5 linked regions of the Homo sapiens genome follow. The protein of the gene in region 2 purifies or fractionates together with the protein of the main gene of each other region. This does not show direct contact. Each region holds a gene or a part of one and is shown on either strand. Other genes may lie near its edges. The genes, in order: HPN, PROS1, TMEM106A, CLGN and NOTCH2.

The links.
Region 1: the proteins of PROS1 (region 2) and HPN purify together in Homo sapiens (co-immunoprecipitation; one large-scale study listed by IntAct). This does not show direct contact.
Region 3: the proteins of PROS1 (region 2) and TMEM106A purify together in Homo sapiens (co-immunoprecipitation; one large-scale study listed by IntAct). This does not show direct contact.
Region 4: the proteins of PROS1 (region 2) and CLGN purify together in Homo sapiens (co-immunoprecipitation; one large-scale study listed by IntAct). This does not show direct contact.
Region 5: the proteins of PROS1 (region 2) and NOTCH2 purify together in Homo sapiens (co-immunoprecipitation; one large-scale study listed by IntAct). This does not show direct contact.

What each region holds. Positions count from the first base shown.
Region 1 is NC_000019.10:35,057,484-35,063,700, forward strand, and holds part of HPN (serine protease hepsin precursor), read left to right. Parts: intron 1-1,575; exon of another isoform or gene 1,576-2,189; coding exon 2,190-2,319; intron 2,320-2,390; coding exon 2,391-2,513; intron 2,514-2,645; coding exon 2,646-2,686; intron 2,687-2,863; coding exon 2,864-3,029; intron 3,030-3,143; coding exon 3,144-3,334; intron 3,335-6,217. UniProt on the Homo sapiens protein: Serine protease that cleaves extracellular substrates, and contributes to the proteolytic processing of growth factors, such as HGF and MST1/HGFL. Plays a role in cell growth and maintenance of cell morphology.
Region 2 is NC_000003.12:93,882,120-93,888,336, forward strand, and holds part of PROS1 (vitamin K-dependent protein S isoform 2 preproprotein), read right to left. Parts: intron 4,385-6,217; coding exon 4,217-4,384; intron 2,778-4,216; coding exon 2,609-2,777; intron 1-2,608. UniProt on the Homo sapiens protein: Anticoagulant plasma protein; it is a cofactor to activated protein C in the degradation of coagulation factors Va and VIIIa. It helps to prevent coagulation and stimulating fibrinolysis.
Region 3 is NC_000017.11:43,216,702-43,222,252, forward strand, and holds the end of TMEM106A (transmembrane protein 106A), read left to right. Parts: coding exon 1-39; intron 40-557; coding exon 558-611; intron 612-979; coding exon 980-1,100; 3' UTR 1,101-3,340; downstream 3,341-5,551. Other genes in the region: CCDC200 (coiled-coil domain-containing protein 200), read right to left, coding at 4,870-4,896. UniProt on the Homo sapiens protein: Activates macrophages and polarizes them into M1-like macrophages through the activation of the MAPK and NF-kappaB signaling pathway.
Region 4 is NC_000004.12:140,416,510-140,422,726, forward strand, and holds part of CLGN (calmegin precursor), read right to left. Parts: intron 1-6,217. UniProt on the Homo sapiens protein: Functions during spermatogenesis as a chaperone for a range of client proteins that are important for sperm adhesion onto the egg zona pellucida and for subsequent penetration of the zona pellucida.
Region 5 is NC_000001.11:119,921,652-119,927,868, forward strand, and holds part of NOTCH2 (neurogenic locus notch homolog protein 2 isoform 1 preproprotein), read right to left. Parts: intron 4,961-6,217; coding exon 4,848-4,960; intron 4,160-4,847; coding exon 3,654-4,159; intron 2,334-3,653; coding exon 1,986-2,333; intron 1,128-1,985; coding exon 985-1,127; intron 796-984; coding exon 585-795; intron 159-584; coding exon 62-158; intron 1-61. UniProt on the Homo sapiens protein: Functions as a receptor for membrane-bound ligands Jagged-1 (JAG1), Jagged-2 (JAG2) and Delta-1 (DLL1) to regulate cell-fate determination.

The sequences.
Region 1 (6,217 bases), on a different chromosome or scaffold from region 2:
TATTTATACTATATTATTAAAGTTATTTTTCATAAAACATAGAAGGGTAAGTTTAAGAAATGAGAAGTATTTATACCAAAATGATTAAATATTATTTAATTTAAAGATATAAATGTCTTGTTGGACAAATAATTCAAAATTTCCATTAGACAGGAAAAATAAGTTCAAGAGATATATTGAACAACATGGTGATTATAGTTAATAACAATATATTATATACTTGAACATTGCTAAAAGATATTTTAAGTGTTCTCACCACACACAAAGGGTAGTGCATGTGTTAATTAGCTTGATTTAGCCGTTCCACAACGTATACATATTTCACATCATCTTGTACACCATCAATGTATATAATTTTGTCAATTAAAATAAATACATATTTTAAGGCCGGGTGCAGTGGCTCACACCTATAATCGCAGCACTTTGGGAGGCCGAGGCAGGCAGATCACCTGAGGTCAGGAGTTTGAGACTAGCCTGGCCAACATGGTGAAACCCCATCTCTACTTAAAATACAAAAAAATTAGCTGGGCATGGTGGTGCATGTCTGTAATCCCAGCCACTCGGGAGGCTGAGGCAGAAGAATCGCTTGAACCCGGGAGGCAGAGGTTGCAGTGAGCTGAGATTGCACCACTGCACACCAGCCTGGACAACAGAGTGAGACTCCGTCTCAAAAAAATAAATAAATAAAAATAAAATAAATACATATATATTTTTGAGATGGAGTCTCACTCTGTCGCCCAAACTGGAGTGCAGTGGCACGATCTTGGCTCACTGCAACCTCTGCTGCCCAGGTTCAAGCAATTCTCCTGCCTCAGCCTCCCGAGTAGCTGGGATTACAGGCACCTGCCATCATGCCTGGCTAATTTTTGTAGTTTTCATAGAGACGAGGTTTCATCATCTTGGCCAGGCTGGTCTTGAACTCCTGACCTTGTGATCCACCCATCTCGGCCTCCCAAATAAATACATATTTTAAAAGATAGAAATCACTCTGGAAGGAGAGTTAATCTGTTTGATATAATAATAATAATATATTAATATTATATTATAACAATATATTAGTATTATATTCTAATAATATATTAATATTATATTATAATAATATATTATTATATTATAACAATATATTAATATTATATTATAACAATATATTAATATTATATTATGTAATAATAATACTACTCCATATAGCTATGGAAAAGTTCATATGAAGAAACCAGGCTATGATCTACAAACTGGCAACAAATTTGTTCTTCTATTTTCCATATGCTGTCTGTGTACGTATAAAGTGAGAGGTCTTTTTATATGAGTTAAGGGTGTGACCAAAGACAAATGGAAAAAGACAAATGACAAACATACTAATAAAGAGCTTCGGTTTCTCCACAAAAAATACAATAATAAAATAAAATGTTATCAGAAATCTCTTGACTCTCCTCCACGTTAGCTCACTTTTTCCCTCAAGAGGGTGAACATGACCCTTAACAGATCCAGCCTCAAGTGCTGGATTCTCTTGGGAACTTGGTTAAATGGTTTTTTTTCTTCCCGAATGTCCAAGTCACCTTCCAGACCTGCAGCTCCTGAGCAGCCAACTTAGGACTTCTAATGGAGAGTGAAGTTCCCCTGGTTCGCGGAGGGGCCGGCCACAGCCTCAAGGCTGCTGTTGATTGGTCCGACCTGAGTCCTTGAGTCTGGCAGAGTGCCATGGTGCTCTGTAATCCCACCTGTAATCCCAGCATTTTAGGAGGCAGAGGCAGGAAGATTGCTTGAGCCTAGGAGTTCAAGACCAGCCTGGGCAACATAGCAAGACCCGTCTCTACAAAACAAAACAAAACAAAACAAACAAACAAAAAAATTAGTCAGGTGTGGTGGTGCACGCCTGTGGTCCTAGCTACTCAGGAGGTTGAGGTAGGAGGATTTCTTGAGTCTGGGAGGTCAAGGCTACAGTGAGCCAAGATCACACCACTACACTCCAGCCTGGGCAACAGAGCGAGACCCTGTCTTTAAAAAAAAAAAGTCCTTGAGTCATGATTCCAGATGCAATCGCAGATGTGGGGGCTGCAACCCTCCGATGGGCTGGGGTTCACGTCTACACCACATGGCTGGAGCACAGGCCAGGAGGGGCTCCGGCTGGGGAAGCATGTGGGGAGCCTGGCTGTGGGACCCAGGCGGCCCCGGGCCCTGTCGCCCTGCAGTGCAGGTCAGCTCTGCGGACGCTCGGCTCATGGTCTTTGACAAGACGGAAGGGACGTGGCGGCTGCTGTGCTCCTCGCGCTCCAACGCCAGGGTAGCCGGACTCAGCTGCGAGGAGATGGGCTTCCTCAGGTACTGGGGGCCCTCGGAGGGGTGGGAGCCGGGAGGGGCTGGGGAGCAGGCCTAACCCCTGCCCCGCCCAGGGCACTGACCCACTCCGAGCTGGACGTGCGAACGGCGGGCGCCAATGGCACGTCGGGCTTCTTCTGTGTGGACGAGGGGAGGCTGCCCCACACCCAGAGGCTGCTGGAGGTCATCTCCGTGTGGTGAGGAGGGCAGCGGGCAGGTGGGGCAACACCTCAGACCCCCAAGGCACTCCCTCTCCCCGTTTTCCTTCCACCTGTCTTAACTGGTCTCTATTTCCTTTCTTTCTGTGTCTCCAATCCCATCTCTCCCAGTGATTGCCCCAGAGGCCGTTTCTTGGCCGCCATCTGCCAAGGTGAGATCCTAAAACTCAGAACCCTCTCCTTTAGGCCCTTGGGGAGGCCACGTCCCCTCAAGCTCCCCAGGATGGGGCCATGTACTTTCAGACCCCCTAGGGCAGGGCCAAGCCTGGGCTCTGGGGACCTGGGCTCCAGTCCCCTGTCGCCGCCCCCTGCTGACCCTTGTCCCACAGACTGTGGCCGCAGGAAGCTGCCCGTGGACCGCATCGTGGGAGGCCGGGACACCAGCTTGGGCCGGTGGCCGTGGCAAGTCAGCCTTCGCTATGATGGAGCACACCTCTGTGGGGGATCCCTGCTCTCCGGGGACTGGGTGCTGACAGCCGCCCACTGCTTCCCGGAGTGAGTGCCCCCCAATGGCGCTGATGATGGGGAGGCAGAGGAGCGGAGAGACAGTGGGGAGGAGGGCGGATTGTGCCCAGGCAGGTGGCCACCCTCCACCCCTTTCCCTGGTAGGCGGAACCGGGTCCTGTCCCGATGGCGAGTGTTTGCCGGTGCCGTGGCCCAGGCCTCTCCCCACGGTCTGCAGCTGGGGGTGCAGGCTGTGGTCTACCACGGGGGCTATCTTCCCTTTCGGGACCCCAACAGCGAGGAGAACAGCAACGATATTGCCCTGGTCCACCTCTCCAGTCCCCTGCCCCTCACAGGTAAGTCTAAGGGCTGAGCCATGGGGCTTGAGGACCCGAGGCCAGGAGGACAGAGGAGGGGACCAGGGGCACAAGGCAATCAACTTATGGCTCAGGCATCCTTGGCAATAAGGGGAATGATCTCGAGGGAGCACAAAGTGGGCCTTAACTATCAATGATCAGTGCAGCCAATTTGGAAAATTTGCCAGCATTTCCCCAAGAAGTATACATAAAGTTACCATTGGACCCAACACTTCCACTCCCAGGACAGGAGGTATATACCTAAGACAAATGGAAACTGTGTCTGCACCAAAACTCGTACATCAGTGTTCATAGCAGCATTATTCATAATAGCCCAAAGATGGAAACAGCCCAAGACTGTTTCATCGGACAAATGCATAAAGAAAATGTGGTATATTGACCGGGCGCGGTGGCTCATGCCTGTAATCCCAGCACTTTGGGAGGCCGAGGTGGGTGGATCACGAGGTCAGGAGTTTGAAACCAGCCTGGCCAACATGGTGAAACTCCATCTCTACTAAAAATACAAAAATTAGCCTGGCCAACATGGTGAAACTCCATCTCTACTAAAAATACAAAAATTAGCCTGGCCAACATGGTGAAACTCCATCTCTACTAAAAATACAAAAATTAGCCTGGCGTGGTGGCACACGCCTGTAATCCCAGCTACTCGGGAGGATGAGGCAGGAGAATCTCTTGAACCCGGGAGGTGGAGATTGCAGTGAGCCGAGATCACACCACTGCACTCCAGCCTGGCTGACAGAGCAAGGCTCTGTCATCTTGAAAATAAATAAATAAATAACAAAAAAAATGTGGTATATCCACACAACGGGAGAATATTGGACCATAGAAATGAATGAGGTACTGATTCATGCTACCACAAGGATGAAACTTGAGAACAGTGCTGAATGAGACAAGCCAGCCGCAAAGGCCACATACTGTAGGATGCCACTTGTATGAAATGTACAAGGCTGGGCACGGTGGCTCACGCCTGTAATCCTGGCACTCTGGGCAGCTGAGATGGGAGGATTGTTTGTGCTCAGGAGTTTAAGACCAGCCTGGGCAACATAGCAAGACCCCATCACTTAAAAAAATGAGCTAGGTGTGGTGACGGATACCTGTAGTTCCAGTTACTCAGGAGGCTAAGGCAGGAGGATCACTTGAGCCCAGGAGTTTGAGGCTGCAGTGGGCTAGGATTGTGCCACTGTACTCCAGCCTGGGTAACAGAGCAAAACCTTGTCTGTTAAAAAAAGAAGAAAGAAAGAAAGAGAAAGAAAAGAAAGGAAGGAAGGAAGAAAAGAAGAAAAGAAAAGGAAAGAAAGAAAAGAAATGTCTAGAATAGGCACATCGGTAGAGATAGAAAGTTGATTGATGGTGGCAGGGTGGGAGGTGGGGATGGGAGATTGGGAGGTGACTGGTGAAGGACACAAGGTTTCTTGTCTGGGTGATGAAAGATTCTAAGTCGATCATGATCATGGTTGCACTTGTCTGTGACTACACAAAAAGCCAGTGACTTGTGCCTTTAAAAGGAATTGTCTAATATGTGAATAGTAGTTCAATCAAGCTGTTACCAAAAAACTAATAAAATGAAAAGAAAATGTGTTAAAAATGAATGAATCAGACTTAGAAAGTAAGTTAGGAGTCATTCCCTCTGCAATTCCCTGGAGTATTCCCTTGGTCTTACTGAGACTCACTTAGGTGCCAACATGTCCTTAACACCTCTCCAACACATACATCTTCCTTTTGGATTAAAAGCAGGCCCTGGGCTTCAGATTTCAGCAGGCTGCAGTGTAATAATAATAATAAAAATAGGCTGGGCATGTAATCCCAGGCCAAGGTGGGGGTATCGCTTGAGCTCAGGAGTTCAAGACTCGCCTGGGCAACATGGCAAAACCCCATCTCTACAAACAAAAAAAATTAGCTGGCTGTGGTGGTGCGCGCCTGTGGTCCCAGCTACTTGGGAGGCGGAGGCAGGAGAATCACCTGATCACCCAGGAGATCAAGGCTGCAGTGAGCCATGATCACACCACTGCATTCCAGCCTGGTTGATAGAGCGAGACCCTGTCTCAGAACATAATAATAATAACGGTGATAATGATGATCATGAAGTAGTAATAGCGAGTAGTATTCGAGTTCATGATTGAGTATTCGAGTATAGCGAGTTCATGATCATGAAGTAGTAAAAGGGAATAAGGGAGTACATGATGAGTGTACACAACACAGTAAAATAATCTGGTAAACATAGCAGTGTGCCAGGCACCATTCCAAATATGTCCTGTGTATGGACTCACTTAGTTCTCACAGCAACCCCAGCACACCCTGGTAAGGAGGGTTCTCTTAAGATCCTGTTTTCCACCCAGGAAAAGGTCCCAACCCAAAGAAGGCAAACAATGCCCCAAATTCGTACAGCTGGTGAACGGCAAAGATTTGTGCCCAGGTGGACTGGCACTGGAATCTGTGCTTGTGGCCCCCACGCTGTGGTGACGGAGAATCCAGGGCCATGTTGGGGTTGGCATTATGTTTATTTTTATGTTTATTTTATTTTTCATGATCTGTGGTACTGGTTTCCCATTGAAGGGAGTGATACATGCTTTTCTTTAAAACCAAACCCTGTCCTGACATGGTGGCTCACGCCTGTAATCCCAGCACTTTGAGAGGCTGAAGCGGGCAGATCACTTGAGGTCGGGAGTTTGAGACCAGCCTGGCCAACGTGGTGAAACCCCATCTCTACTAAAAACACAAAAATTAGCCAGGTGTAGTGGCAGGCACCTGTAGTCTCAGCTACTCTGGAGGCAGAGGCAGGAGAATCACTTGAACCCAGGAGGTGGAGGTTGCAGTGAGCCAAGATCGTTGCCACACCCTTCTCCTTAGTGAAAAGAGTGAGAG
Region 2 (6,217 bases):
AACTATCAGATTGGAAAAAAACTAAAGCATACACTTTCTCATTCTGTTGGTAGAAATATTAATTGATAAAAGATTTTTGGAAAAGAATGTAATTGAACCTCTAATAATTATATATTTGCATAACCTTTGATAGAGATAACCTAATTCTAAAATTTTCTTCCATAGAATTAATCACATAAAGGTAGAAGGATGTATGATTTAGGATGTTCACAGAAGTATTACTTCTAAGGTTAAAAACCTAGGGTCAGTATGGCAAGATTCCCTGCTCCACTTAGGCTGTAGAAAAGTGGAAAGGGCACCACTCCCACCCTTACAACAACAAAAGCCAAATTATCTGCATAATCATGACTTTTCTTGAAACTATCAAAGAGCTGAGGTCGCAGAGCAACAAACTAACCAGAAACCTAAAGAAAGACAGGTGTTTCCAAGGAAAGCCAGAATGAGAACACTTTCTAATCCAGGGCAGACAGGAAATGCCATGCAATTTGGTAAAAATAATTTAGGTAAAGATTTAAACAAATTGCTGAACTCCATGTAGGGGCTGACGTAAGAGTTTAGAAGCCCTAGAAATTACAGACACAAAGACAATTCATGCTCATTCACAGGCTCTTCTCCACAGACCTTACCATGCACTCAAGAGAAAACAGAGTGCAGGGAAGGAGATCCGAAAAAGCCTCTCTCTTAATATGGTCCTGAAAGCAGCACCAGCTACAGGGAAGCCACAAAGCCCCATCTAGATCCTTCTCGGTCTCCTCTACACAACACAAGTTTTCAAGCCAGGAGAAAGGCAGCAAACCTTGTCATTAGGACACATATGAAGACTCATTGCAACTACAGATTAGGAAGAACAAACAAAAAAAGCTATCTATCATGCAGAAGGAGCAAGAAAACATATTGAGTCCTGATCACTAGACATCTCCCCTACTGATGAGAGTCAGGGAAGAGGAACAGTGAAAATTCCACACTCCTGAGACCCAGGGATACAACACCTGCCTAAGACTGAATTTGTACGACAACAACATAGAATGCTTCCCCAACCTCCGCATCTTCTCTGCCATGTTAGCAAATGTCAGGTAACAAGAGCACTCTGCTAGGGGTGGGCAAGACACTTGAGAGACACAAGTGGGAGAGACATTTTCTTGAGGCGTATTATGGAGGGAATACATAAAACTGAGCTGCTATGATGAAAAACTCTCTAGGCCAGGCACGGTGGCTCAAGCCTGTAATCCCAGCACTTAGAGAGGCTAAGGCAAGCAGATCACCTGAAGTCAGGAGTTTGAAACCAGCCTGGCCAACATGGCAAAACCTCGTCAAAAATACAAAAATTAGCAGGGCATGGTGGCGCACCCTTGTAATTCCAGCTACTCAGGAGGCTGAGGCATGAGAATCACTTGAACCTGCAAGGTGGAGGTTGCGGTGAGCCGAGATTGTGGCACTGAGCTCCAGCCTGGGTGACAGAGTGAGACTCAGTCTCAAAAAAAAAGAAAAAAAGAAAGAAAAGAAAAAGAAAAACTAGCTACCAAACCATTCCCTTATTCTAAGCAGAAGGTAGTATTTTGAAAATCTGAGGCTGGGTGCGGTGGCTCACACCTGTAATCCCAGCACTTTGGGAGGCCAAGGGGGTGGATCATGAGATCAGCAGTTCAAAACCAGCCTGGCCAAAAACACAAAAATACAAAAATTAGCCGGGCGTGGTGGCGGGCGCCTGTAGTTCTAGCTACTCAGGAGGCTGAGGCAGAAGAATCACTTGAATCCAGGTGGCAGAGGTTGCAGTGAGCCAAGATTGCATCACTGCACCCCAGCCTGGGTGACAAAGTGAGACTCCATCTCAAAAACAAAACAAAACAAAATAAAAGATCTGAAACCTGTGGTGCATTAAGGGTAATCCTGGCACCAACAAAACTTAAGAAGCTCAACTTTTCACTAGATTGATTCAATCCCATTACTAAGAGCCTAGCAAAAGAAATGTGCTCATTTCCAGACACAAATATTCTTTATCTCAGTCTCTACTGTTATACGTAAGATGCCCAAATCTAAACCAAAAATTACATGGTACACAAAGATGCAAGAAAAACAACACTTGGTCAAGGGACAAAGCAAACAAAATGACGAGACTCAGATATGACACAGTTGGAACTACGAGACAGGGAATTTAAAATAATTATGATGAATACATTGAAAACTCAGTACATAAACTAGACAAGTGTGAACAGATAGGGAATTTCAACAGGGAGGTAGAAATTTTAAGAAAGCATCAAATAGAAATGCTAGAAATGAAGATGAATCTTTCTGATGCATTCATTGATAGACTCCATACAAGTGAGAAATCAGTGAACTTTAAAATAGGTCAATTGAATTTACCCATAAGGAATCAGGCTATGTACTGATAAACCTGAAATAACAACACAAGCACATTCAAATGCCTTTATATTTTTCCCAATACACTGAAAAATTTTTGTAAAAGGTATATAATAGTATGAATAAGCATAAGACTAGAGTGGGCACACAGTAGATACTCAATAATGTTTCACAAATAAATTATTACTGTTTGTTAATGAATAAATTTACTCATTAATGAGAAAATAGAGATAAATGGAAAATCACTTACTATAATCTATGTGAAATTGAGCAATTCCAGAACCAGGATAGTAGGAGCCCTTCTCCACAGTAACCAGGCAATGCTTATTTTGTTTTTCTTGAATAATTTCCTTTATTCCAGAAGCTCCTTGCTTCATCAAATTCCAGCTTCGTATACATCCATCTAGACGAGGGTTAATCTAACAAATTAAAATACAAGTCAAGGAGTGCATTTTAAACTTAAACAGTGGCTCGATTATGAGTATAGGTTTTCATTAAGAGAAAAAAAATCCTTTCTTTGATAATAGTTGAAAATATTTTGAATTTTATTTAAGTTTTTCTTTTCAAAGTATTCTTCAGATGGACAGTCTTTTTCAGTACAAGCAAGCTCATACTATCACAAGCCCTCAGTGGGATCTTAATGGTTTTTAACACTTCAAGCCCCACCTGCCTCTCCTACATCATCCAGTGGTAACTTTTCTGCTTTCAAGTTCTATATTTGCTTCTAGCTGTGGCCCTGGGCTCTAAGTTGTCTTGTTTATCTTCTTTGTTTGTTTGATTGAGATGGAGTCTTGCTGGAGTGCAGTGGCAGGATCTTGGCTCACTGCAACCTCTGCCTCCCTGGTTCAAGCGATTCTCCTGCCTCAGCCTCCTGAGTAGCTGGGATTACAGGTGCCCACCACCACGCCTGGCTAATTTTTGTACTTTTAGTAGAGATGGGGTTTTGCTACATTGGCCAGGCTGGTCTTGAACTCCTGACCTCAGGTGATCCACCCGCCTCGGCCTCCCAAATTGCTGGGATTACAGGTGTGAACCACCACGCCTGGCCTTGTTTTTCTTTAGTGGCATTTATAATATGGGTTTGTCTTGCCAATCAGACTCTAAGTCTCTTCAGACACAAAAGTGTTTGCATTCTTTAGCCTCCATCAAGTATCCTGCCAGGCTCAAGACATGTAATAACCGTTTCATAAATGATTGATACTTTTTGAATAATTTATTTTACTTTTAAAGTGTATTAATTTCTCAGTTTCAAACAACAGGTATACTCATGTCAACATGGGTTAATTAATTCAAGCTTAATATCATATAATGGAAATCTTTTAAAAGTTAAAGTAACTACGAATTTCCAGAGAATGAAAGACGGATGTAAGATAGTAAATATTTAACAATAAATTTCACCTTATGTGCTATTCTTTAGCTCTTGCATTTAAGTCCTAAAAATAGACTTGAGAAAGTCCTTTGACTGGCTTTTACAAAATGGTGTAATTTTGGACTTAAATATATGAATTTATATGTTTAACAACTGAGTATGGATTATCATGATGTTAACACTGAACATTACATTACTAATGTTAACATTAGTGTTAACATTCTCAAGTGTTAACTTGAGAATTTTAGAAATCCACTTCATGATTTATGCTGGGGATTTAAATGGGCACAAAACCACTACGTCATTTTTTTATTTCATTAATATAATTTCAAGGGTTACTAATGTTATTTTTCCATGATCATTTCAAGTTGTCACACTTAGTATGCTTAACAAAACAACTTCTATTGATTCTCAGAAACACACATATTCAAATCTATTACAGACAAAAGGAACTCATCCATGATGAATGATACAAGCTTGGATCATTACCGGTTTAATGAGTTCACTTTCCACTTTCCGAGGGAATCCTGCAAAGTATACTTTGGTTTCCAGCAATCCATTTTCCGGCTTAAAAAGGGGTCCAGGTTTATTTATATCCATCACAGCTTCTTTAGCTATTTTAATGCTAATACTATGTTCTAATTCTTCCACAGACACCTACAATTAAAAAGAAAAATTACCAAATAACCAAGTATTACTACATGTCATTTGAAATACTGGGATCTAAAACTTATGTTATTATTCCAATAAAATACTTCTGTAAAGTAATCATTTTAATGTAATTATTAATTTGTTACAACTCATTTGGAATGTCAAATTATGATAAATGTGATAAAAAGGCATTTAGGGTGGCAGCACGATCAAAAATTAAAAGCATACCATATTTTAAAGTTAAAAAAAATACTATTCTGTTAAGCTTAAACATCCAGTTATATATCTTTCAATTCCAGGCTGCTAGAAAATTAACAATTAAGTGAGCCATTCTATCTTAGGAAAAATTTAAGTGGCCTTATTTTGCAATTGTCTGATAATACGCACATGGAATCAATAGTGTAAATAAGTTCTTTTTTTTTTTTTTTTTTTGAGACGGAGTCTCGCTCTGTCGCCCAGGCCAGACTGCGGACTGCAGTGGCGCAATCTCGGCTCACTGCAAGCTCCGCTTCCCGGGTTCACGCCATTCTCCTGCCTCAGCCTCCCGAGTAGCTGGGACTACAGGCGCCCGCCACTGCGCCCGGCTAATTTTTTGTATTTTTAGTAGAGACGGGGTTTCACCTTGTTAGCCAGGATGGTCTCGATCTCCTGACCTCATGATCCACCCGCCTTGGCCTCCCAAAGTGCTGGGATTACAGGCGTGAGCCACCGCGCCCGGCCCATAAGTTCTTAATATAAAGTAAGAAAAATCAATATGTTCACTATTCTGTTAATTGCACACAAATTATTTTTTCTTTAAAATTCAAAAGTGATTGAGGCAATAAGAAAAAAATACATAAAATTAAATTGGAGTTTTCCAATTTTGAGAGTTGTTTGGGTTTTTAAAAAAGGTTTCAAGTAAGGGTAAACAACAATAAAAATTCCTTCTACAAAGGCAATTTGAAGAACCACTGCTGCAATCACTTCAAGTAAAACTATAGCACTCAAAGAGCAAACTCTTCACTCACTAACCAATAATATAAGCCAAACAATAAGCATATTAAAACACCATGATAGGAAGGGAAAAACTATCCTCCAACATAAAATAAATTTAGTTACACAAATTTAAAGTTGGTCAACACTCCTTCTTTAATATAGCCAATTAGCAGCATGTGAACAACTATTCTCTCCTTTACAGACTTTCTTAACTTAGCCTACAACACTTGACCCTGATTGCTTCTCTTTCTACACTCTAACCACTACTTCTCAGTCTCCTTTGCTGGATCCTCCCCTCCCCACAGCTCAGGCCCCAGACCTTTTTCCTGTAGCCATGCAAGTATTTTAAGTGAGACACTATGACTCCACTCCAGGGCATTTGGAAAATTTGGAGGTGAGGAACACTTTTATTTGTCACAATGAGTAGGGGCCATGCTGGCACTGCAAGATGATAGACAATCTGCATTATGTACATAGGCTAGTCATGCAGAATTAATAATAATAAGTAATGCAGAACTAATAATAAAATATCAAGTATTCTTAAAATCTTTTGAACATCACTGCTAGGTATTCATGTAGGGAATATTCATGCTTACAATCATCTGAGTTTGTGCATACATAGACACAAAATATTTGCTGCACTATTTTAGCATTCATTACATTTTTCAAGAATGTAATAATCTTGACAACTAAGGATAGATTGATATTTGTTTTGTTCATATCTTTACCAGGAACTTCCCACCACTTTGGAAAATTAATATTACCAATGGCAACACCATGTATGCCCTTAATGGTACTTGAGTTGCTAATTTAACACCCCAGCATTAGTCTTCATTTGTAGCTTTTACTTTATGCATAGAAGCA
Region 3 (5,551 bases), on a different chromosome or scaffold from region 2:
TTACGCAGTAGCTACCAAGATACGGGATGAAAACACATAGTGAGTACCCCTTGATCTCTTCTCCCCTAGCCACTTGCCTGGCTTAGGGACCCAATTAATACCCACCAGCTTTCCTGATTGCTTAGCAAATTCTTCAGCCAGCATCTGGCCTGCCCTCCCATGGCCGAGAATGTAATAAGCAAGGGTTCAGGGTCCCCAGCCTCTGCTTGTTTGGACCTTGATTAGAATGAAAAACAGGCTGGAATTTGGTTAATCTTTACAATATGTGACCTTGGGCTCTTCAGCCTGCATTGCTGAGGAAGAAGAATGTTTTGTCTGTCTCCTGAATGGGGGTCCAGCATGTGCCTGGGCCAAGTGAGTGGAGGTCAGAGTGATAGTGCAGCCATGCTGCTACACTCACCTGAAGGGTGGGAAGGGGTGGGAGTGACATTTTGGGGGCACCTGATGGAAGGAAAGAGTTCTGTGGGGTAAGGAAACTGGGACCTGCAGGCATCTTCTGAGCTGACAGGCTGCTCCATGTGACACGTGGTCCCACGTTCTCTTTTCTTCTCTCTCAGCAAAATCTGTACCTGGCTGGAAATCAAAGTCCACCATGTGCTTTTGCACATCCAGTAAGTAGAGCTTGGAGCTCTGGTATCCCTGCTCTCACTTCTGACTTCATTCTCACTCAGCTACACCTCATGGGCAGAGAGTCTTCCAAGCTGACCCCATGAATCTTTGTTGGCTCTTGGGAATAGCAAGTCTAGCCCCTTTTCTGAGTCTCACCTTGCCTATAAGTTATTAGGGGCAACAGGCATAGGGCTGTCTGGAAGCTGCTGGAAAACAGGTGGGGCAGCTGTCCCAGGTACCTTGGCAGAGTGGGGAGCCAGAGGGAAGGGCAAATGAGGGAGCTCCCCGCTCCCCACCCCCAGACAGTATAATGGGGCCAGAGCTTTCCTTTTCCTCCCAGCCATGGCAACAAGGCCTGCTTCCTCTCCAGGGGCACCCTGACCTGTTCATACCTGAGCCATTCAGAGCAGCTGGTCTTTCAGAGCTATGAATATGTGGACTGCCGAGGAAACGCATCTGTGCCCCACCAGCTGACCCCTCACCCACCATGACCTGTCTGCTGTCCCTGTACTCCAGGCACCTGCAACCCTGGTCTATATCTCCCACAACTCCCTGGTGACTAAGGAAGGACTACAGAGGCTTTGCCAAAGGAGAAGCCCTGCCTCATCACACCCTTACCTCCCACCCCCTCAGCACAGGAAGCTTGCTTTGAAGTTAACTTCATACACACACACTCATATCCTCCAGTTTCCCCCAGATTCTTTCAGGGGCTGCCATCAGATTCTGCCCTTGGTTAGTTTTTTGTTTTTTTTTTGGTAGAGACAGAGTCTCACTGTTGGTCCAGGTTGGTTTTGAACTCCTGGGCTCAAGCGATCCTCCCTTCTTGGCCTCCCAAAGCACTTGGATTACAGATGTGAGCCTGTGCCTGGCTGGTCTTTCTTGAGGAAAATCTGACCTGGCATTTTCTTGAGGCACCTTAGATTCCCTGGAGTGGCACCTGGCCTTTCTGTACTGAGCACCTGGTCAGTCTGAAGGGGGCATTTCACCCCAGCTCCATCAGGGCTGGCTGTCCCGTCTGAATGTGGAGAGAGCTGTAGTTTTATCTGGCTTTTAAAACATGGACCTGCCGGCTGGGCGCAGTGGCTTACACCTGTAATCCCAGTACTTTGGGAGGCCGAAGTGGGTGGATCACTTGAGGGCAGGAGTTCGTGACCAGCCTGGTCAACATGGTGAAACCTTGTCTCTACTAAAAATACAAAAATTAGCTGGGTGTGGTGGCATGCGCCTGTAATCCCAGCTACTCGGGAGGCTGAGGCAGCAGAATCACTTGAAACCGGAAGGCAGAGGTTGCAGTGAGCCAAGATCGTGCAACTGCACTCCAGCCTGGGCAAAAGAGCAAAACTTTGTCTCAAAAAAAGACTCTTTTCAAGTTTTCTACCCTCTGATAAGAAAATTTGGGGATATCCAGTGCCATCTCCAAGGACTTTCAGGGGATCATAGATGCTTTTCTGTGCCTATCTGCTTTGACCATGTGAAAAAGTGATAGTCTGCTTCTCTCTGGTAACTTGTCTGCCACCCATCTGATAGTAAGATTAGCCAAGGCCCTTTAGCCCTCTGTCCTTTCTGGTTATTGACTGTCCCTGGTTCCTAGGAAGACAGAGTTGTTCTCCAGCTAAAGCGTCTCCTCTCTATAAAGTAGTTTTACTATTCTTTTCATAGCAGGAGCCAAAATAGTAGAGGAGGGGAGAGAGGCACCTGGCACTCTGCGGGCCTGCACAGGAAAAACAGAGCCAAAGACAGAATCATTGTATAAGATATTTATTAAAGGAGAGCCTCTAAGTCCACATCCTGAGCCCATGTGAGTGGACACAGGTAGGTAAAACGGTGGGTCCAGCTGCTGTCATCTGAAAGCCTTCAGGAGATGAAGCTATCAGTATCCAGCTGAAGGCTGCTGGGTTCTGTTCCACCACCACCTTAGCACCAGGGCCCTCTCTGGTCCCAGAGGCCTCATCTCTCCTTGGGCTTTGACAATGTGGAGCAGCACATCAGCAGGGACTGGTCTAGACCCTCCCTTTCCTGTCACTTAGCTGGAGCTAAGCTCCAGATAACCCCTAGGTTCCCACTGGCTCCTAGTAGAAATAGTTTCTGTACTTTAGCAGAACAGGAAGGATATTTGTTCATTAAAGGTGGCTTGGTCTTACAGCTGGGTGCAGTGGTATATACCTGTAGTCCCAGCTACTCAGGAAGCTGAGGTGAGAGGATCTCTAGAGCCCAGGAATTCAAGTTTAACATGAGCAGCAACATTAGCAAGACCCCGTTTAAAAAAAAAAAAAGAGCTGGGCGTAATGGCGCACACCTGTAATCCCACCTACTCAGGAGGCTGAGGCAGGAGAATCACTTGAACCTGGGAGGCAGAGGTTGCAGTGAGCCAAGATCGCACCACTGCACTCCAGCCTGGGCAACAAGGGCGAGACTCTGTCTCAAAAAAAAAAAAAAAAAAAGATGGCTGTCTCTTTATCATTCAGACAGAACGATGAACACAGGTGAGCAGGGAAAGCTAATTTTGAAGTAGGATGCATGGAGAGGGAGAAGTGGTGACAGAACTTGGTAACTAGCTGGCTGGGGGAACGAGGGGAAGGAAGGAGACTGCTGTCTCCAAGCTGAGGTCAGGGTGGTGTTGGCAAGAGCGCAAAAGTCCAGGGAAGCCAGGCTGGAGCTGCTGTGTATAGACTGCCAAATGTGAAGTATTTATATTGTATTCAATAAACTATACTTAAGAGTGTTCAAAAAAGTCTCCTGGGAGTGGGAAGGGAGCTAGTGGATACTCCCTATTTCACAAACTTTTCTTTTTTTTTTTTTTTGAGACAGTTTCGCTCTGTTACCCAGGCTAGAGTGCAATGGCATGATCTTGGCACAGTGCAACCTCTGCCTCCTGTGTTCAAGTGATTCTCGTGCCTCAGACTCCCTGAGTAGTTGGGGTTACAGACATGCACCACCACACCAAATTAATTTTTGTATTTTTAGTAGAGACAGTGTTTTATCATGTTAGCCAGGCTGGTCTCAAACTCCTGGCCTCAAGCGATCTGCCCGCCTCGGCCTCCCAGAGTGCTGGGATTACAGGCATGAGCCACTGCACCTGGCAGAAACTGTTTCCTTAATGTTCTAACGGGCAGCAAGGTTTCTTCCCCAGGCCTCTGAGCCACTGATGACATATCCTGCCCTTCTGTTTTCCGTGAGATTGCTCACAGGACCTCACTCTCCCTCTTGCTCCCATTGTGTATCTCTAAAGTCTCTTCCAATTTTACTATTCCTGTTCTGTGCCACCACCATCCCGTTATCTTCCCCAGCTGCTCTCATCAGGAAATTTCGTGGGTTGCACTGAAACGGCCCCTTCAGACCAAAGGCAATGCTATGTAGGCTAAAATGAAATACGCAGCTGATGCCTCGGACGGGGCTTGTGATTGAGGTGACTGAGGCAGCCTTTCTCAGCATGGAGGAAGAAAGGCTTTCCCAGGGCTTGCACCTTCCTGAAGTCTAACACCCAGGGCCCCCAGCCCTACCCACTCCTTCACCTTGGGCTGGTGAACCTCTGGGTTGTCTCTGCTAGATGGAGAGGCTGAGAGCCAGGAAGGGAGAGGGCTGTGGGTTTTAGAAGGCAAGACTCCCTCCCCTTCCCAGGGTCAGGTGTCATGTTCCTGAGGCTATAGCCTCCGTTTCCTCCAAGCTCTTTCGCTCCATCCCTGCCTCCATTGTCCATTTGACAGCTGAGTGCCCACTGTAGGCCAGCCATTGCACTGGGCTTGGAGGTGGGGAGCATCACTGCCTGCCACCACTTTCTGCTGCTGCAGGCCTGCTCTGATGTGATGCGACCCCTCCTTCCCCAGGCTATATCTCAGTAAGCATGGGCTTGGGGGAATGGGTGATGGCTCCAGTGACAGTCATAAACTGAAGCCCCCCACAGACTTATCACTGCTGAATGAGGGCAGGTAGTGATAGTAGTAGGAGTTGCATACTTGGGGGGGACCCAAGACCCAGTTCTCCCATTGGCTTTGCCTAGAGAAGCATAAACTTGCCTTCCACTCTCTTTCCACCCTCTCCATCCCCTTCGTGAGTCCTCCTGCCCTCTTCCTCTCATCCCTGTCTCATAAAGCTGTCCGGTCCCGTGATTCTTCCCAGGAAAAAAATTACATTTTATTCCTGGCAGCCTCCTCTTCTAGAGTGGGTGGCTTTTGGAGTGGAGATATTGCTGGATGCTGAGAAGATGTGGTTGCTCATCTGCATTTTGGGGATGGCCATGGGGTCCTGGGTTCAATCTCTGGATCACCACTGCTGTATGTAATTGGTAGACTGAGAAGAGGGAGAGACAGGAAACAAAACAAGTTAGCAGCTTCTGGTTTCAGAACATTGTGTGAAATCCCTTGAGTCCAGAGGAATCAAAGTGAAATGTAGCAGCCCACTCTTCATCCTAGAAGTGCTAGCATCAGTTTCTTTCATCTGTTGCACCTCTGTCAGAGACACCTTTCCAATGCCTTGCACAATTGCACAATTATATATTCTTGTTAAGAGTTGCCATCCAGGCCAGGCGTGGTGGCTCACACCTGTAATCCCAGCACTTTGGGAGGCCAAGACGGGTAGATCTTTTGAGACCAGCCTGGCCAACATAGCAAAACCCCATCTCTACTAATAATATAAAAATTAGCTGGGCGTGGTGGTACATGCCTGTAATCCCAGCTACTCGGGAGGCTGAGGCAGGAGAATCATTTGAACCCGGGAAGTGGAGGTTGCAGGTGGAGTGCAGCTGAGATCCAGCCTGGGTAACAGAGTGAGACTGTGTCTCAAAAAAAAAGAAAAAGGTTGCCATCCTGAGTTTGATAGCCTACAATGAGCTGGACTCCAAGCTAAGTGCTTTTAATGCTCTTTCCTCTGTCTGTCTGTCTGTCTATCTCACTCTTTTACCCAGGCTGGAGTGCAGTGGTGTCATCCTGGCTCACTGCAACCTCCA
Region 4 (6,217 bases), on a different chromosome or scaffold from region 2:
TAAAGGGGATATCACCACTGATCCCACAAATACAAACTACCATCAGAGAATACTACAAACACCTCTACACAAATAAACTAGAAAATCTAGAAGAAATGGATACATTCCTCGACACATACACTCTCCCAAGACTAAACCAGGAAGAAGTTGAATCTCTGAATAGAGCAATAACAGGATCTGAAATTGTGGCAATAATCAATAGCTTACCAACCAAAAAGAGTCCAGGACCAGATGGATTCACAGCTGAATTCTACGAGAGGTACAAGGAGGAACTGCTACCATTCCTTCTGAAACTATTCCAATCAATAGAAAAAGAGGGAATCCTCCCTAACTCATTTTATGAGGCCAGCATCATTCTGATACCAAAGCCAGGCAGAGACACAACAAAAAAAGAGAATTTTAGACCAATATCCTTGATGAACATTGATGCAAAAATCCTCAATAAAATACTGCCAAACTGAATCCAGCAGCACATCAAAAAGCTTATCCACCATGATGAAGTGGGCTTCATCCCTGGGATGCAAGGCTGGTTCAATATACGCAAATCAATAAATGTAATCCAGCATATAAACAGAGCCAAAGACAAAAACCACATGATTATCTCAATAGATGCAGAAAAAGCCTTTGACAAAATTCAACAACCCTTCATGCTAAAAACTCTCAATAAATTAGGTATTGATGGGACATATCTCAAAATAATAAGAGCTATCTATGACAAACCCACAGCCAATATCATACTGAATGGGCAAAAACTGGAAGCATTCCCTTTGAAAACTGGCACAAGACAGGGATGCCCTCTCTCACCACTCCTATTCAACATAGTGTTGGAAGTTCTGGCCAGGGCAATTAGGCAGGAGAAGGAAATAAATGGTATTCAATTAGGAAAAGAGGAAGTCAAATTGTCCCTGTTTGCAGACGACATGATTGTATATCTAGAAAACCCCATTGTCTCAGCCCAAAATCTCCTTAAGCTGATAAGCAACTTCAGCAAAGTCTCAGGATACAAAATCAATGTACAAAAATCACAAGCATTCTTATACACCAGCAACAGACAAACAGAGAGCCAAATCATGAGTGAACTCCCATTCACAATTGCTTCAAAGAGAATAAAATACCTAGGAATCCAACTTACAAGGGATGTGAAGGACCTCTTCAAGGAGAACTACAAACCACTCCTCAATGAAATAAAAGAGGACACAAACAAATGGAAGAACATTCCATGCTCATGGGTAGGAAGAATCAATATCGTGAAAATGGCCATACTGCCCAAGGTAATTTACAGATTCAATGCCATCCCCATCAAGCTACCAATGCCTTTCTTCACAGAATTGGAAAAAACTACTTTAAAGTTCATATGGAACCAAAAAAGAGCCCGCATCGCCAAGTCAATCCTAAGCCAAAAGAATAAAGCTGGAGGCATCACACTACCTGACTTCAAACTATACTACAAGGCTACAGTAACCAAAACAGCATGGTACTGGTACCAAAACAGAGATATGGATCAATGGAACAAAACAGAGCCCTCAGAAATAACGCCGCATATCTACAACTATCTGATCTTTGACAAACCTGAGAAAAACAAGCAATGGGGAAAGGATTCCCTATTTAATAAATGGTGCTGGGAAAACTGGCTAGCCATATGTAGAAAGCTGAAACTGGATCCCTTCCTTACACCTTACACAAAAATTAATTCAAGATGGATTAAAGGCTTAAACGTTAGACCTAAAACCATAAAAACCCTAGAAGAAAACCTAGGCATTACCATTCAGGACATAGGCATGGGCAAGGACTTCATGTCTAAAACACCAAAAGCAATGGCAACAAAAGCCAAAATTGACAAATGGGATCTAATTAAACTAAAGAGCTTCTGCACAGCAAAAGAAACTACCATCAGAGTGAACAAGCAACCTACAAAATGGGAGAAAATTTTCACAACCTACTCATCTGACAAAGGGCTAATATCCAGAATCTACAATGAACTCAAACAAATTTACAAGAAAAAAACAAACAACCCCATCAAAAAGTGGGCGAAGGACATGAACAGACACTTCTCAAAAGAAGATATTTATGCAGCCAAAAAACACATGAAAAAATGCTCATCATCACTGGCCATCAGAGAAATGCAAATCAAAACCACAATGAGATACCATCTTACACCAGTTAGAATGGCAATCATTAAAAAGTCAGGAAACAACAGGTGCTGGAGAGGATGTGGAGAAATAGGAACACTTTTACACTGTTGGTGGGACTGTAAACTAGTTCAACCATTGTGGAAGTCAGTGTGGCGATTCCTCAGGGATCTAGAACTGGAAATACCATTTGACCCAGCCATCCCATTACTGGGTATATACCCAAAGGACTCTAAATCATGCTGCTATAAAGACTCATGCACACGTATGTTTATTGCGGCATTATTCACAATAGCAAAGACTTGGAACCAACCCAAATGTCCAACAATGATAGAATGGATTAAGAAAATATGGCACATATACACCATGGAATACTATGCAGCCATAAAAAATGATGAGTTCATGTCCTTTGTAGGGACATGGATGAAATTGGAAAACATCATTCTCAGTAAACTATTGCAAGAACAAAAAACCAAACACCGCATATTCTCACTCATAGGTGGGAATTGAACAATGAGATCACATGGACACAGGAAGGGGAATATCACACTCTGGGGACTGTTGTGGGGTGGGGGAACGGGGGAGGGATAGCATTGGGAGTTATACCTAATGCTAGATAACGAGTTAGTGGGTGCAGTGCACCAGTATGGCACATGTATACATATGTAACTAACCTGCACAATGTGCACATGTACCCTAAAACTTAAAGTATAATAAAAAAAAAATCTAAAGATAAAGATGATAGTAGTTATCAAACACAAATAATATGTAGACCTCTTTAAAAGTATCATGATTCCTAAATGTTCACTGAAATTGTTTTTATTATAATGTTGCTTAAGTGTATATAAACATAAAAATGGAAATTTTATAATTATAAAACCAAAATACATTTATATATAAATGCTGAGAAAAGATACAAAAATTTTTTTATCACAAATTTAATGTGGTAGAGTTTTACTAAAATCAAAGCACATTCAAAAGATCAAACAAATATAGGGCTTATTGTAATCAGGTAGACTGCTATGGAGAAAGTTCTTTTGCATATATAATTCCTATAATTCCACAATTACATAATTACTTATATATTTATGGACAAAGACAAAAATGATGGGTGCTGTCATTAACTAGGATTTGATCTCTCTAAATCACAAAAGAGGTATAACTGGGATAGGAAGTAAATGTAAAGGGATCAATTTGACACAATGAAATAGGCTTATTTCCTTAATTTCCTAGTTATTGGCACAGAAATTTGTATATCTGCAAATTGCTTATTAATTGTGAACTCTAAAAGCTTCATTGTTCTAAAAGCCTAAGGGCCTTCCATGTTACATAGTAAAAGGCACTTTGCTTGACTGGCTATTAATCATTTTTGAGCAAAATAAAAACACATAAAATAATACTACTAATAATGAACATTAATATAACTTTAGACCCATATCCTCTCTTTCAAATGAATGTACACTTTAGGTTCCAAACAATTAATTTGTTGAAAAAAAAACATTCTAAGTGCTTTGTTTGAACTCTGGTGTACTGGGCTGCCAAGAAAGAGTTAAGAGGAAGCCAAGCAGGTAGTGCTCTATCTGGAACTCTACCCTTAACTCAACCAGAGCACCCCAGTTTTATTTGTATTCTATATTATAGTTTTTCCTGACTTTTCCTTAGAAATAGTTGCCAATGCTTCAGAAAACAGTTCAGAAAACACTTTATCTTGAAAGTTTGTTTCTTCTTTAAAATTCTATGATCTTATATTTACATCAAAGAACTAGCTAATTTAATCTTTACAGCCCAGGACATGAATAGCGTAGGTACTATTCCTAATCAACAAAACAAAAACAGAGAGTTTTAAAGAACTGCAATTGGTTAGAAGGCATTCTGTAGACAATGCAGTTCTATTGTTTTTATTTGTTCTTTTTTTTAAAAAAAAAAATCAGAAATACAGACTTAATACTTTCTGCGTAATGCTGCAGTATCCTATCATTCTTCAGTGCTGCACCAGCTGACAATTGAGAATTAGATACTGAAGTTCACAGTCTTGAAATCTGTCTCACAATGGTGCCAACATGTTATTAAGTTCCAAACAAAACTATGAGGTTTGTGACATCTCATTTCTTAGAGAGAGGTATGCTATTGACAAGTCTGTACTGAAACTCTGAGAGGTCAGATGCTGGGGTAATACTACAAGAAAATGAAGTAGTTAATTTATGCATTTAAAATTGTTTTAAATCACGTGGTAAAACATTCTCATTGTTGTACAACTAATTTCCAAAACTTTCTTCATGCTCTAAAACTAAAACGCTATACACTTTTAACAACTCCCCACTACCCTTCCCTCCAGCCCCTGGAAACCATCTTTCTAATATCTATCTCTATGATTTTGACTACTCTAGGTACTGCATATAAGTGGAATCATACAGTATTGGTCTTTCTGTAACTGGCTTATTTTACTTAGCATAATGCCCTGAAGCTTCATCCATGTTGTAGCATGTATCAAATTTCCTTCCTTTTTAAAGCTGGACAGTATTCCATTGTGTGTATACACCACATTTTGTTTATACATTCATCTGTCAGTGGACACTTGGGTTGCTTCCACCTGTTGGCTGTTGTGAATAATCCTACAATGAATATGGGTATACAAATAACTCTTCGAGACCTTGTTTTCAATTCTTTTGAGTATATACCCATAAGTTGAATTGCTTGGTCATATGATAATTCTATTTTTTTTTGAATCCTCATACTGTTTTCCACAGTGGCTTTACCATTTTACCTTCCCACCAACAAGGCACAAGGGTTCCAATTTCTACACATCCTTGCCAACATTTGTTCAAAATTATGTTTTTTTAAATAGTAGTCATTGTAATAGGTCCTAATATGGCGTAGTATCATATTGTGGTTTGATTTGCATTTCCCTGATGATTAGTGATACTGAGTATCTTTTCATGTGCTTGTTGGCTATTTATACATCTTCAAGGGAAACATGTCTATTCAAGTCCTTTGCCTATTTAAAAAATCAGGTTTTGTTTTTGTTTTGAGTTGTAGGAGTTCCTACAAATTCTGGATACTGACCCCTTATCAAATATATGATTGGCAAATATTTTCTCCCATTGCATAGGTTTTTCATTTTGTTGTGTTCTTTGATGCACAGAACTTTTTAATTTTGAGTTTTCCAATTTATATATTTTTTCTTTTGTTGTCTGTGCTTTTGGTGTCATATAAAAATTACTGGCAAATTCAATGTCATGAAGCTTTCCATGTTTTCTTTTAACAGTTTTATAGTTTTCTTATGTTTAAGTCTTCAATCCATTTCGAGTTAATTTTTGTCTATGATTTAAGGTAAGGTTACAACCTCATTCTTTTGCATGTGGATAGCCAGTTTCCCCAATATCATCTCATGAGAAGACTGTCCTTTCTCACAAAATGGTCTTGGCACTTTTATAAAAAAAATTTGAACATATATGTGGGAATTTATTACTAGGCTCTTTATTGTATCCCATTGATATATATGTCTGTCTTTATGCCAGTCTCACACTGATTTGATTACTATAGCTTTGTAATAAGTTTTGAAACAGAGATGTGAGATTTCCAAACTTATTCTTTCCCAAGATTGTTCTGGCTATTTGGGGTCCCTTGAGATTCTATATGAATTTTACTATTCTTGCAAAAAGTGCTATTAGGATTATGACAGGGATTGCACTGAATCTGTAGATTACTTTGGGTTGTGTTTCCATCTTATTAAGTCTTCCAATCCCAATGAACACAATGTCTTTCCATTGATTAATATTTGTTTCTTAATTTCTTTCAGCAGCATTTCATAATTTTTCATGTACAAGTATTTTACTTCCTTGATTTATTCCTAAGTATTTTATTCTTTTTTATGTTGTTATAAATGGAATTGTTTTCTTAATTTCCTGTTCATTGTTAGTATACAGAAGTGCAACTAATTTTTGTGTGCTAGTTTTTTTACCCTGCAACTTTAGTGAATTCATTTGTTTGTTTTTTGAGATGGGATCTCACTCTGTTACCCAGGCTGGAGTGCAGTGGCACCATCATGGCCCATTGCAGCCTTGAACTCCTGGACTCAGGTGATCCTC
Region 5 (6,217 bases), on a different chromosome or scaffold from region 2:
AGAAATTTGAAATGTAACCAGATAATGGCTGACAATGGTGGTTCTACCATGGCCACCTCACCTTTACTTTCTTTGGCTGGGGCCCTTCATCATCGACCCAGTGTTCACTTGTTCCAGTACCAATTAGGTTAGCTTCTGAGACTTGCACTGAGAGATTTCTAATATGATTATAAAAAGAAAAAATAAGAATGGCAGTCATAAACTAATACAGTGGTTTTCAACACTTTCCACCATGACACACTCCCGTGGCTATATTACAATTTTGCAGGGTCTTGGCCCAGAGAAGATGGGCAGTATTTTTGGTGACATTCCCTTGGCATTCATCCTTTCCCTTCCCATTGATCGTGAGCTTACAACAAAAGGGCACCTCAACACAGAAGCTGGGCGGCATTGTGATAATATACACAGAATAGATGCACCCACGCTCTGACTGTGGTTTCAGTCACTCACAAGGCATTTAGAATCATGGTCAATGTGAGTAAATGCCCAGAGCTTAGAATTTAAAATCATGATTCAACAAGATATGCTTTTCTAGTCATCCCTACTTATACTGTGAATAGTGGCTTATTGGCAATGCCTCTTACTTCAGCCCCACAGCATCCTGTCCCACTGGCTCACGACGCTTGTGATTGCTTGCATCTCGGCGAAGAGTGAAACCTTCAGGCAGCCAGAGAGAGCCATGCTTACGCTTTCGTTTTGCCATGATTACCCCCAGCAGAATAATAAACAGAATGATGACAACAGCAACAGCAAGGAGATAGAGGAGCTGAGTGCGTTCTGGAGTCAGGGATTCACCTGAAAGTCCACAGAGACAGGGAAAGTGCTGAATAAAACATTAACCTCTCAATGTCAGCATTAGATTCATTTAGAGGGCAACTTTGACCTCAACAGTCCTGAAAAAATAGAGGGCTACATAATGAAAATTGTTCCCCCAATTGACACTCTTCCCCCGCCACCTTTCCCCTTTACACCAGTGCCACTCACTGACGACAGACACAAGAGGGTATGACAGGGTCCCCTGTATGGCGTGAGAGGCCAGGAGAGCTGCTGCTGCATCCGTGTTCTTGAAGCAGTGGTCTGAGTCTTGAACACACTGGCGGTTGTCAATTTCCAGAAAGACTTTAGAGCTGTGGGATGCCAAGGGAGAAGCGGAGGAGGAGAGATGGGGGTAAAACAGAAGAGTGCAGGTCAGGCAGAACATGTCATAAAGGGTGACAGGAGCCTCCCTTCCTCCCCTTCAGCATCAGGTCCCCACCTCTGGGATGCTGCCTTAAGACATATCTCAGGAATTAGAATACTGTCCCTTGAGATCTTAAACACTAATTCCCACATAGAGGATGTCCCACCTTCCTTAGTCTGGCTGACCAAAGCCTTCTGGCTGAGGCAATGCATGACAAAGTGAGAAGCTGTGCTTTCCTCCCGAAGGTTTCAGTGGTCTTCTTCCACTCTTTCATACCTACTCAGTGGTACTTGGTGCTACTCTAAACATACATCCCTGTGTGTTTTTAGTCCTTATTTTCCTTTGTCTCTGCATTGGTATCTCAGCTAGCTGGAGGGTTGAAAGTTTGACAATATACCAACAAAGAGTGAGGTGTGAATGACAGAGCAACTGAAGATCATTACCTGTGTCAAAGAGACATATATTCTAAAGAAGGGCCTTAACAATAAGGCAATGATTAATGTAAAAAGGAATGTCACTAATAAAGGGATTTGAGGCAACTCTGGCAAAAGGTTATGGATTCTGGCATCTGAGGAGGCCTTCCAGACATTCTGCCTCCTGTGTACCCCTGCCCACTTTTCAGCCAAGACGAAGGCATATCTTTACATTTAAACGTAAGTACTGGGGTAACGGGTTTATCTTAAGTGGTGGGCCATTCTATTTTTCTGATCTTTGCATTTCTATAGGTTGAGTTATGACTTGTGCTATATGTCAAAGTGCTAGGCTTCATAAAATTAGCCTTGAAGTTCAGAAACCAAACACCTACCCAGCCACCTCCTGTTCTTGTTCACCAGGAAGGGATCTGCGTGTCATCCTCTGTTTCTTCATAGCAGCTGACTTCTCACCATAATAGGGGTACACCATGAGTTCCCCCTGGGAGTCCCGCTTAATGCGCAGGTTGGTGTGGAGCAGGGTACCCAGTGCCCGCAAGAAGCTGCGAGCATCCTGGAGCAGTTGTTCAGGTGGCATCAATACCACAATAACCAGGGTACCTTCTGCCAGGTTCTCAGGTTGGTCAGCAGCACAGTCCAGCCCATCCCAACCACACTCCTCACTGTTGCACCCCTGGTCACAGTGGTTGTCTTTGAAGTGGTCTGCACAGTATTTGTCATACCTAGGTAAGGGGAAGCAGAGAACAGGCAAAAGAGCTCAGATTAGACTGGAGCTCTATTTGCTTTTTCATTTGGAACTACTGTGGATTTTCCTACCCATTTTCTGTGGCCCACACCCAGGACCCAAATGCCCCACAAAACCTTCTTTGCATCTCCTATCCCTGATGCCTATGCCACTCATCCTTGTTGAGTACTTCCTAAATGAAGAACATTGTACTCACTATGCTGCAGGAGCTTAGGGGCTCCCAGGCAGTTTACAAGCCTGTTAAGTCAGGTTTTCAAACAAAGCTGCATATCTGAAACAAAAGTCAACCTGGTTCATGCTTCCTCTACTTTAGAGAAATCCATTGCCCCCAGTAAGGTAACAACGGGCTTTAGGAAGTGAAAGATGCCTCTAGAAACTTGATACAAGGCCCTGAACCATTGAGAGTTGCCATACAGAGAACAATATTAACATGACCCATTTCTTTCCCTTTCAAGAGTGAATCCCAACTACAGAAGGTAAAGGCAGATGGGTATGTCCTTATAGCACACCAGATATTACTTGTACAGGCTCTTTCAATATTTGGAAAAGGAATTAGAACCCCCAAACCTAAATGATGTACAAACTATTCCATCTATACTCTCCTCTCCTCATCCCCTACCCCTTGATATTTATACTATTTGGTACAACTTTTCATGCTAGCTCAATCAGAAGATTAGGAGTCAAAGAAACAACTTGCTTTGGCAAGTTCTTTAACCCTTGGGCCTAAGTTCTCTCACCTATGAAAGAATGTTAGTAATACCTATGCCTCGTGAGTTGCTGAGAATTAATTGGGATTAAATTATATGGAATGGCTAGTTAATAGGAAAGTTCCTAAGTAAACCATAGAGCATCCTATACAATTAAGACCGGGAGGGTTCACAGACTTAATCTAATTCATGCTTCCTGATAAATCTAGATGGGGAAAAACAGTCTTAGGGAAAGGAATGGGGTGAAGAGAGAGATACAGACCTTTCCATCCATCCTGCAGGCAGGTTATGTGAGAGGCTGCTTGAAGTGGGAAACACCACTTCCAAAAGTTATATCCCCCAGGAGGTCACGAAGGCAGCAGGTGAGAAGGCAAAGATAGGCAGAGAGAGAGGGTCATTATGCAATGAGCATTCCTGGCCCATTGTCAGCAAGGGAGAGCACAGGGCAGTGTGCGATGGGACAAGGCTGGCACCATCTGAAAAGCAGAGGCAGCTTAGGCTGAAGCACTGGAGTGGTTAGGAGCAAGAACGAGAAACTGAAGTGTGTTAGTGACAGTCCCCTTCAGTTCTGGAAAACGTGAAGCCCTTACTTGCATGTCTTGCTGTTCCCCTGGCATTCAAAGTTGTCAAACAGGCACTCGACCGTGTTGCACAGCTCATCACACTGGTTGTTGATATAATCCCAGCAGGGAAGTGGGGAGGAGCAGTTGGCCCAGGGGTTCTCCATGGTGAGAGAACAGTCACCCCCATCCCACTGGCAGGCATGGCTGTTGCAGGCCTCATCACAGACGCCATCCCGAGCTTTGTCGGCACAATACTGGCTCAGACAGGTGGCAGGAGGGGTGCTGGGGGGTGCCGTGTAGAGTTCACAGCGGCTACCCGAGAATGGTGGGGCACACTGGCAGGAGTAATAAGGAGGCTGGCGCTGAGGGTGGCAGCTGCCCCCGTGCTGGCAGGGGCTACTGGCACAGCCTGACTCGCAGTCCCGGGGACTGGGGCAGAAGCAGCGGGGTCCAGAGGCGGTGTGCACACACTGCTCCCCCTTCCTACATTTCACTTGTCCACAGCTGCTCTGGCACCTTGCCCCGGAAAATCCCTGTGGAAATCAGTGAGGAAATAAAAATGGCATTGGTAGGAAAACAGTCATATTGGAAGTTTGAGGTTTCTAGAAAACCTCCACATCTCACTCCCTTCTGTACTTCCCGTTCAGCCCAAGCCAAGGTTACTAGACAGGTTTCCTTTTGGTATCTCCCGAGGCATAGGGATCTCTTGTTTTGGGAAGGTTTCAACCTCTGGCAGTGATAAAAGAATGGGTATAGCAAATAGCTAAAATTGAGCTTCCCTCTACTTTAAGAGACAACTTGCTTCCAAATGGTTCCTGCTAAAGAATGTAAGAGCAGCATTTCCACCAACTCTGGCCCAATCTGGGCAGTGAGATTACCCTCCAGCCTGGGGCCAAGAAGCCCCACACATCAGCCCTATTTTCAAGGGGGCACTCCACCACTTTTTGTGGTTTTCCCTTAGTTTTTCTTAAGACTGACAGTCATGGATTGGGAAGCTCACTGTTTCTGGGAGTGTCTAAACAGCTTTTATTTGTTTTTGTTTTGTTTTGTCACTTGTAAACAGCTTTAAATGGAAAAACCCAAGCACTTTCCTCTGAAAGAGCTAAAATTGAGAAATCTTCCCATTTCGAAGATTGGTAAAACCAGGTTTAATCTCAGTTCTGTTCACAGATTGTATGGAAGAGACAATGCCCCTTCTTAGATGAGCAACAGGGCACTTACCGGGGGACAACGGCAAATGAAACCATCAGGCATGTTACTGGCCACAGCACAAGTCCCTCCATTCAGGCAGGGCATCTGGGGACACACATCGACGAAGGTTTCACAGTGCCGGCCTCAGAAAATAAAAAATAAAAAAGGTTTTAAAAGGCAGAAGTAGTCACTGCAAGTTACTCAACAAACTTTGCTGGGATGGGAACTAGCCATAGGTGAAGCAAGTGTGAGAGAGTTCAGTTCTAGGCCTGTGGTAATCTGAGCATAGAAAGAAAACACTCACTGCATCTCAACATGATTGGCCTGTCACCAGCTCAGGCCAGTCCCTTACTCTGTCTTGCCTACACAGTAAGTACCAACTCACACAACAGGGTGGGTGAGAAAAGTGACTTAAATCCCATCAAAAAAAGAGAAATCACACTTCAGCTTTTTGAAGTCATTTTAGCTTTCATAAGTTGCAAAAAAACAGTTGAAAAACTATTCACTGCATTTTGTTAATGTTATCTACTTCATAGGAGAGGCTACACCAGGCCAATACATTTAAATGGTGATTTGCGGTATAGAGAATTTTCATCTGTGATACCTCATTTCAATCACTTTTTGGCCTTTCTGTAACCTAACTCGTATTCCTTAAAACACAGCTTAATTTTCCTAGAGTTAGTTTCCTCTAGGAATAGTTCTAAAACGGAAGGCCCCTGGGGGCCACTGCTCCAAGATAAAGAACGAGGCAACTGGAACCACAGAGGAGACGCAGGGCACAGCTGGGACTCCTGGCCAACAGCAGGAGATAGGCCCCATTTGGCCGGTGGTCACTTGGGAAAGAAGAGGTAGCTTTAAAAATGAAATAAAAATAGTAATGTTTTTGGCCAACGAGATCAAGCAGCAAGAGGTATAAATGTTTGTCTCTTCAAATCACAGCAGCAGCCGCTAACCAAGAGCAGCCACCACATGGACACAGCTTGGTGGACCACCAGTCCCTTGCTGTTTATCTCTGCAACAGCATCCCACAATAACTGTGCTCAATGTATTCAAGGGATTTTTTTTTTTTCATTCACAAATGTGGAAAATGCACAAACACTACTTCCTGGCTGTGGGATACTACTTCAAAGTGGTCTCCATTCCTTCCTTCTCCTGCTTCCCCCTTACTTTGCAAATGCTTGTGTTTCCAGAGAAAAAAGCCTCAGGGGCAATGAAAGAAACAGGAGCCAGTTTTGATGCTTTGGCTTTCAAAGTGCAGTTTGGCCAATACGAGGCTGTAGACAGATTATTCATACTTATTCTGTTCCACATTGCCTCAATAGCTATTATGTTCACAATGGACTATTTCTTTTTTGATGTTAGTGTATCCAGGGAGCTTCCATATTGCAGAATCCCTCCCA